2 separate regions of the Homo sapiens genome follow, and region 2 is linked to region 1. Evidence: fine-mapped expression QTL. Tissue or cell type: sun-exposed skin. Region 1 holds a variant in brackets; the other region holds the start of a gene. All regions are shown on one strand. Distances are from middle to middle.

Evidence for each region. PIP is the estimated chance that this variant, and not a neighbour inherited with it, causes the effect.
Region 2: it holds the start of UBE2D4, and the variant in region 1 is fine-mapped to the expression of UBE2D4 in sun-exposed skin (GTEx, PIP above 0.99). The same link has a PIP of 0.9 or more in unexposed skin.

What each region holds. Positions count from the first base shown.
Region 1 is chr7:43,959,708-43,964,188 of GRCh38, reverse strand. It overlaps the pseudogene POLR2J4. Among named protein-coding and RNA genes, the nearest start is that of UBE2D4, 36 kb to the right of the region's middle. The variant C/T (reference allele first, on the strand shown) is at 2,417.
Region 2 is chr7:43,924,775-43,929,255 of GRCh38, reverse strand. UBE2D4 (ubiquitin conjugating enzyme E2 D4) reads right to left here and starts at 2,820. Exons shown (of 7, transcript NM_015983.4): 1 at 2,700-2,820. The coding sequence starts at 2,723. It also overlaps a transcript of URGCP not described here. RefSeq lists a silencer at 2,387-2,926.

The DNA.
Region 1 (4,481 bases):
TACAGGCATGCACCTGTACCACCAGTGCAGTGGTGATCATAGCTCACTGTAGACTCCACCTCCTGGGTGCAAGCAATCCTCCCACCTCAACGTTCCGGGTAGCTAGGACCACCTCACCTGGCTAATTTTTTGTAGTTTTAGTAGAGATGGGGTTTCACCGTGATGGCCGGGCTTGATGTTGAACTCCTGACCTGTGCCCGGCTGTGAATACTTTTTTAGTATAAGAATAACCGCTGGGCGTGGTGACTCACACCTGTAATCCCAACACTTTGGGAGTTTGAGGCGGGTGGATCACTTGAGGTCAAGAGTTCGAGACCAGCCTGGCCAACATGGTGAAACACCGTCTCTACTAAAAGTACAAAAAATGGTGGTGGGCACCTGTAATCCAAGCTACTTGGGAGGCTGAAGCAGGATAATTGCTTGAACCCAGGAGATGGAGGTTGCAGTGAGCCGAGATCCCACCACTGCACTCCAGCCTCTGTGACAAGAGCGAAACTCCGTCTCAAGAAAACAGCTGGGTGCGGTGGCTCATGCCTGTAATCTCAGCACTTTGGGTGGCCGAGGCGGGTGGATCATGAGATCAGGAGTTCAAGACCAGCCTGGCCAACATGGTGAGGCTCTACTAAAAATACAAAAATTACCCGGATGTGGTGGCGGGCACCTCTAATCTCAGCTACTTGGGAGGCTGAGGATGGAGAATTGCTTGAATCTGGGAGGTGGAGGCTGCAGTGAGCCGAGATCGTGCCACTGCACTCCAGCCTGGGTGACAGAGCAGGACTCCATCTCAGCAAAAAAAATAAATAAATAAAGAAGAAGAATGACCATGCACTATTTGAGACATACCTATACTAAAAATATTCAAATTTAGGCCGGGTATGGTGGCGCATGCCTATAATCTCAGCACTTTGGGAGGCCAAGGCAGGAGGATCACTTGAGCCCAGGAGTTCAAGACCAGCCTGGGCAACATAGCAAGACCCCATCTCTAAAAAAAAAAAATAAGTAAATAAAATATTCACATTTAACTGGGTGTCTTGGGTCGTTTTGCTAAATCTGGCAGCCTGTCTAGGAAGCCCTCTGGCTTGTTTGCTGTGGCCCACAGCCCTCAATGGTTCAGCTTTGTGTCTCTGTGGAAGGCCCCAGACCCCCACTCCCCCAGTTCCCATCCTTAACAGGGTAGGAGCAGGTGGACGGCTGTGTGTCCAGCACAAGGTGTTTCCATAGAACCAGCCAAGGCCCATCTTGCCATCTTATTTTTTATTTATTTATTTTTTTTGAGACAGAGTCAGGCTGGAGTGCAGTGGTGCAATCCTGGCTCACTGCAACCTCTGCTTCCTGGGTTGAAGCGCTTCTCCTGCCTCAGTCTCCCGAGTAGCTGCGATTACAGGCACCTGCCACAATGCCTGGCTAATTTATATATATATATTTTAATAGAGATGGGGTTTTGCCGTGTCAGCCAGGCTGGTCTTGAACTCATGACCTCAAGTGATCTGCCTGCCTTGGCCTCCCAAAGTTCTGGGATTACAGGCATGAGCCACTGCGCCAGGCCCAGGGGCCCATCTTAACACTGCTCTGTGCATGAGGCTCGTGCTGAGCACGGGCAGTGGGAGCCTTAGAGGCTCCCACTTGGTCCACACCCTCCTCTGTTCTGAACTTCCCTATCAGAACAGGGAAGCTGGGAAGCTCAATCTAATGTGGCAAGTTGCTGAACTGGCTCGGGTCTCAGTTTCCCTATTAGGTTGTTATGAGGGTTGGGGATTTGCTTCTGCTGTAAAGTGTACCCATGATGGTGCCATTATCTGGGAGTTGATAGATTCAAGGCTGGCAGCTCCACATACCCAAGCTTGGAGGTGGCAGGGAGCCACACCTCGAAGACAGATAGAGGTGCCTTGAGTGCAGAGACAGGAAGGGCTTTCCAAAAACAGAAAATAAATAGCCCGGGCAGAGCCTGGGAGGCAGAGCTGTGCAGGGCACCCGGATGGAGGGCATGAGCAGAGAGATGGGAGGCTGGCCCCAAGGGAAAAAACTGGAGGCCATGGGAGCGGTGTGGTCCAGGGTGGCCTGAGTCCCTGGTGGAGAGGTCACAGGCTGCCCATTCCAGGGGCAACCTGGGCTCCTTGCAGCTGGAGGTGCGGCTGCGGGACGAGACGGTGCTGCCCTCCAGCTACTACCAGCCACTGGTGCACCTGCTGTGCCACGAGGTCAAGCTGGGCATGCAGGTGAGGGGACCTGGGCAGGGTGGGAGGGTCCAGTGGCAGTAGGCCTGTGCGCCTGTCCTTCCAAACCCATTCTGCAGAGCAGAAACCTGAGGTCTGGGGATGTGAGGAGCTGGCCAGTGTCCAGGGCCCCATCCCCAGCCACCCCTTGGGAAAATGTCCTCTTTCCCTGGGATGCTCTGAGGTCCTCAGAGGGAAAGGTT[C/T]GGGATCCCCCGTGCCTCTCCCTGCAGGGCCCAGGGCAGCTGATCCCACTCATCGAGGAGACAACCAGCACCGAGTGTCGCCAGGACGTGGCCACGAACCTGCTCAAGCTCTTCCTGGGGCAGGGGCTGGCCAAGGACTTCCTGGACCTGCTCTTCCAGCTGGAGCTGAGTCGCACCAGTGAGGCCTGGGAAGGAGCTGGGCCCAGAACGCTGGGAGGTGTTTGGGGGTGGGTGGGCTCCTCCTGTAGGAGGCAGATGGGGTCAGACAGGAGGGAGGCAAGGAACAGAGCCAAGGGCAGAGGTGGGACAGTGGGCTGGGAGGTGGCGAGGAGGCCCTTTATTGAGGGGCCAGCTTAGATCCCCCAGCCCCAAGGTCCTCTGTCCTCCCCCTCCCCCAAAAGCTTTGTCCCAGCCCCCTACCCACTGGGACCTCTGTTTGTAGTCAGAGTTTGTTTGGCTACTTCCTTTGCAACCCCCACCCCCAACCTTTTTCTGCATGGTAGATGAAAAATTGAAAGTACCTCTGATTGGTCCCTTTCCACAACCAATGAGGCTGGTCATGGGCCAAGTCTTCATTTGCATAGGAGTATAACTTTGTAACTTCACTTCAGCCTTTTCCCAATCAATCAGAGATTTGCATAGGGTGTAACTTTGAAACTTGCTTCAGCCTCTGATAGGTCCCCTCCCTCAACCAATCAGACTGATTGTGGGCACTACTTCATTTACAAGGGTGTACATCAAGTAACCAATGGGAAACCTCTAGAGGATATTTAACCCCCAAAAAATTCGGTAACCAGGCTCTTGAACCACTTGCTCAAGCCACTCCCACCCTGTGAAGTGTACCTTCATTTTCAATAAATCTCTGCTTTTGTTGCCTCATTCTTTCCTTGCTTTCTTTGTGCATTTTGTCCAATTCTTTGTTCATGACACCAAGAACCTGGACACCCTTCTCGGGTAACAAACCCACTTCTAAAATAATGGCATTAATCCATTCATGAGAGCCTCAGCACCTCCCACCTCCCACCACTCAACACCATCACACTGGAGATCAAGCCTCTAAGATATGAACTTTGGTGGACACATTTGAACCACTGCCTTGTCTTACAGGCAGAAGCTCTGACATTTCTGAGAGGAAAACAGTTACTTCATCCTGACCTGGAGAAGTCTCAAGTTGTGGCAAAATATCTCTTCTCCTTAGCAGTCCAGTCTGCAGTCTTCACCCCTCCTTTGAATTCGTCCTGGATCTTCTTTTCAATCTTTTCTCTTTTCCACAGTGCAGGTCTCCCTACTTCTCTACTTTGACTTCACTACTGTTTACATTAGAAAAAGTGAATTTACATAAATAGAGGCTCTCCAGATCTCCTAATTTTCAGTCTTTTCCCCCCTTACTTCAGTAACATCTCTGCTTGTTTTTCCTTCAGACCAGACCCTCAGGTGACTTTCTGCCCCCTCATCCCTCTGCCCCCAGTCTCCATATTCTAGAGGAGTTTGGCCATCAGTCTTATGGTACTTATACCGTCTTCTCTTTGGTGAACATACCTTTTTTTCTCTTCTTTGTCTGGGAATACTCCTATTTAATCACCTTCTAGTTGTCAGGTTCCTTCACCCGTTTGGCCACCAGTCCCAGGTGGAAGCCCTAGGAGGTCTGGGAGCACTTTTCAAATTTTAGTCTACCTGAGGAGAAGCTACCCTTACCTGAAACCAGGTTGTGCAGGCCAAAGAAGCAGGTCTCTGTGTTCTGGAATTAGATCAGCTCAGTGAGGTGACCAAGCTCCATGTAGAGAAGACTATAAGGAGGAGTCTCTAGTGGTGAGAAGTTTGAGGGAGCATGATACTGCTTCCTGTTGCAGTGTATGGAAACCTGTTTCAGCTTGATAGGCCAGGGAAAGCCTTAGAGGAGGTAACTAACCCTGGAGCAGAGACTGGGTTCTGAGGTAGGAGCCAGCTTAATTGGTCTGAGAAGTGGGACACAGGGAGAAGGAGAGGCCAAGGGAAGGGCTTTGGGTTTTATTCTATGTGTAATGGAAACCCTGATGGGTTTTAAAGAGGAGAGGATGTGGCCTGC
Region 2 (4,481 bases), 35 kb after region 1:
AAGAGGTTTCAGTAAGTTGGCCAGGCTGGTCTCAAACTCCTGACCTTAAATGATACACCCGCCTTGGCCTCCCAAAATGCTGTGATTACAGGCATGAGCCACCTCACCCGGCCATTTTTTTATTTTTAGTAGAGATGGAATTTTGCTGTGTTGCCCAGTTGGTCTCCAACTCCTGGACTCAAGCAATCCACCTGCCTCGGCCTCCCAGAGTGCTGGGATATAGGCATGAGCCACTGTACCCAGCCTGTCCTTGATTCTTATCAAGGAAAAGTTCTCCCTGGCCTTATGATTTCAATTACCTTGGATCTATAGTTGACATTTCATGCTCAAGGCCCAAACTTGTTTTTCCAAACGCTCCCTTTTATAAATCTTATCAGCCTACACATTTGAATATGTAGGCTCAAACCTTTATTCCTTAATCTCTCCTACCCTCCTCCCTGCCTTCAAAACTTCTGATTCCCCATCCTAGACACTGACACCACCATCCACTAAGTGACCCATTTTGTACACCTCCTTGTTTCACTTTCACCACATCCTCTCCTCGAGTCCTGTCAATTCCACTTCTGCAATGTGGTCCAGGCACTGCTCTGGCCTAGCATCCATTCCATGGTCATTAATTTGGACAAAGCCTCTACTGAACCTTCACAACAGCCTCTAGTCTCCCTCTGTCCCACTTCCGGCCACACTGCTGCCAGAAAGATCTTTTTAGAACACAGATCTCAGCATGTCATTCACCTGCTTCAAAGTCCTAGGATGACAGATGACCCCTTTCAGAGAATAACTCATCAGAATTATCTCTCTTTTGGACAGCTATTTATTTAAAAAAAAAAAAAAGAGTCATACTCTCAGAGATCCTGTAATTCCACCTCTGGCAATCAAACCCAGTAATGTGAATTAAGGAAAAGGCTCATTGTACAATGATGGTTGATCTGGTTTGGATATTTGTCCCCCCCAAATCTCATGCTGAAATGTGATCGCCAGTGTTGGAGGTGGGGCCTAGTGGGAGGTATCTGGGTCGTGGGGGCGGATTCCTCATGAATGGCTTGGTGGCCCCCCCACAATAATAAGTGAGTGCTCACTCTATTAGTTCATGTGAGATCTGGGTGTTTAAAAGAGGTGGCATCTCTCTTGCTCCCTCTCTTACCAGGTGACACGCCTGCTTCTCCTTTGCTTTCTGCCATGATTGTAAGCTTCCTGAGGCCTCACCAGAAGCAGATGCTGGCACCATGCTTCTTGTACAGCCTGCAGAACCGAGAGCCAAATAAACCTCTTTTCTTTATTAATTACCCAGCCTCAGATATTCCTTTATAGCAACACAAAACAGACTAATACACAGTTCGTAACAGCAAATACTTAGTGAAGAATTTTGAACAATAACAGCAGCTAACTCGTATTGAGTGTTTGGTATACAGCAAGCATGTGCTAAACACATTTCATAGCATTTAATTCTCAAAACAACTCTGTAAACATGTAGGACTGGGAGGCTAGGAATGATAAAGTGCCTTGCCCAAGGTCCCACTATAAGTGACCTCACATTCTCTAACCCAGGTCTGTCTGACACCCAAGTCCATACTTTTACCTACTACAGGTAATGACTAAATAAGTTACTAGTCATGTACTTGTGGAAAGTTAATGTTAAAAATTAGTTATAGGACTGGGCATGGTGTCTCACGTTGTAATCCCGCCACTTTAGGAGGCAGAGGCAAGAGGACCGCTTAAGCCCAGGAGTATGAGACCAGCCTGGGCAACATATCGAGACACTGTCTCTACAAAAAATAAACAATTGGCTGGCATGGTGGCATGTAGTCCCAGCTACCCAGGAAGCTGAGGAGGGAGGATCACTTGAACCTAGAAGGTTGAGGCTGCAGTGAGCCATGATTGTGCCACTGTACTCCAGCCTGGGCGATACTCCAGCCTGGGCGACAGAGCAAGACCTCAAAAAAAAAAAAAAAAAAAGTTATAAATACTACTTCACAACATGCTTACATTTACTATTATGTGAATAAGTGGAATACAAAATGCAGTATAATTGTTTTAAATATAGAAAAAAAACTGAAGGTAGGTATGCTAAAATGTTAACAAATAGTAAAGTGATAGAATTAGAAATACTTCTTTCTTCTACTGTTGTGCGTTTTCCAAATTCTAGTGAATGCATTAAACCCTCATGGACTCCCTCTTACCTGCAGGATAAAAACCAGTTACTTCAGCACTGCTCCTAAGGACCACCCAAGTCCACACCATCTGCCCTTCAGCTTCCCCGCTACCCTGTCAGTCCTCCAAGCCTCGTAGTCTCCCCGTTGCAGGGAAAGCCTTTTCCCCTTTTCCCCACCTGCCGAGTTCCTACTCATCCCTTAGGACCCAGCTTCTTCCTGGATACCCTTCTGGATACCCACCCAGCCCTTCTGGATACCCTACAGGGGGAACCCGCTGTCCAGAAGCCTGCAGGTGGCCCCACGGCGCCCCGCCCGCATGACGCAGCCCTCGTGGCCACGGCCCGGCCCCGCCCCGCGCTCGCGCAATCCCTTTCTCAGGCTGCGTTCGCTTTTCAGGCTGCGCGGGAGGCTGTTCTGCCTCCTTCCCAGGCAGGTGTATCCGCGACTCGCGGAGCCTCCGTCACCTTTCACTTCACGGCAGCGGCGCCCCGCCCACACCTCGACGCTTCGGACACCCAAAGAGTTGGAGGGTGGGAAAGTGCGTACCTTCTGGATCCGCTTTAGCGCCATCCTACCCCGCTGCCGGGGACCCGGGCGGCCCGGCCGGGGCTGCCTGAGGCGGCCCGCTGCCGGCTCAGCCGCCACCAAGCTGCACGCCGGGAGCCGCAGCCTGCGCTTGCGCGCGCGGGGCACTGTGGGGCCGTCGTCGCCGCGTGCCGAGCGTCCTGGCGCGGCCGAGGGGAAGCAGCGGGGCTGCCCGGGTTACGCTGGCCACCCGCACCTGGTCCTGTGGCTTCGACCACTAGTCAGCAAGGCCCCGGAGAGGCCAGCGAAGAGGAGGGGCTCGTTGGCTTTACGGAGACGCGCGGAGCACCCTCAAGGTGCCACACGCTCGCCTGCTCCCTGTTCCTACATCCTGGGCGTCTTCCCAGGCTGTCATATAACTCCTGAGAATAGTGGTTCTTAACTCTGTAAGTATATATACCCTCGTACGCCTTATGGCTGGATGCGTTACAGCCATTTCCATGTAGATGTCTGTGCATACGTTCACACGCAAAACTCTCCGCAGTTTTGGAGATCTCCGTGTTCAGTCGTACCTCACGTGATCTTGCACTGCCAACATTGAGAACCCTGGCCTTAGACTATGCATCTCCCAAACTTAATTATCTGTCTCCTTCCTATTTTCCCAAGACTTGGCAGGCGTCTAGGTCAGAGTTGTTCAAACTGAGGGTTATGAACTAGTGTGTCACGAAATCAATTTAATAGGTTGCAACCAACATTTTTTTGAAAAAAAAAAAAAAAAAGCCAGACGAGGTGGCTCACGCCTATAATCCCAGCACTTTGGGAGGCCGAGGCAGGCGGATCACTTGAGGTCAGGAGTTCGAGACCAGCCTGGCCAACATGCTGAAACTCCGTCTCTACTAAAAATACAGAAATTAGCTGGGCGTAGTGACGTATGCCTGTAATCCCAGCTACTTGAGAGGCTGAGGCACGAGAATCACTTGAACCCAGGAGGCAGAGGTTGCAGTGAGCTGAGATCACACTGTTGCACTCCAGCCTGGGTGACAGAGCGAGACTCTGTCTCAAAAATAATAAAAAATAAAAATAAAAAAACAGAATAAAATATCAGTGCATTTCACATAGTAAAGGTAAGAATTGTGGAAGTTTTGTTGGTGTGTGTATGTAGATGATATTTAATCTTCAGACTGAGACATGTTTGAGCATGAAAGTGGCTGTTAATATAATTACTCTGGGACCAACGCTGTAATCTAGAATTGTCTCCAGCCAGCCAAGACACATGGTCACCTCTATGTTTGTACTCAGTCAGCATATAAAATGTATTATAGACATTTCAATAGTTGCCCAGCTTTGTCCCTGGCTTTCACGCTCCCATTCCCCCAATCTGTCCTCCACACAACTTCATGAACTGTCTGAAATATAAAGCTTACCACACTGCATCCTTACCCAGAACTCTTCAAGGAAGCCCCGTGGCCTACAGCATCACATTCACTGTCATCCAGGGGCCTTCAAAATCCAGGATCCTCGGCCGGGCACAGTTACTCATGCCTGTAATCCCAGCACTTTGGGAGGTTGAGGTGGGTGGATCCCTTAGTCCAGGAGTTCTAGACCATCCTGGGCAACATGGTGAAACCCCGTCTCTACAAAAAATACAAAACTTAGCTGGGCATGGTGGTGTGCACCTGTAGTCCCAGCTACTTGGGAGGCTTACTTGAGCCCAGGAGATCAAAGTTGCAGTGAGTTGTGATGGCACCACTGCACTCCAGGCTGGGAGACAAAGCAAGACCCTGTCTCAAAAAAACAAAAACT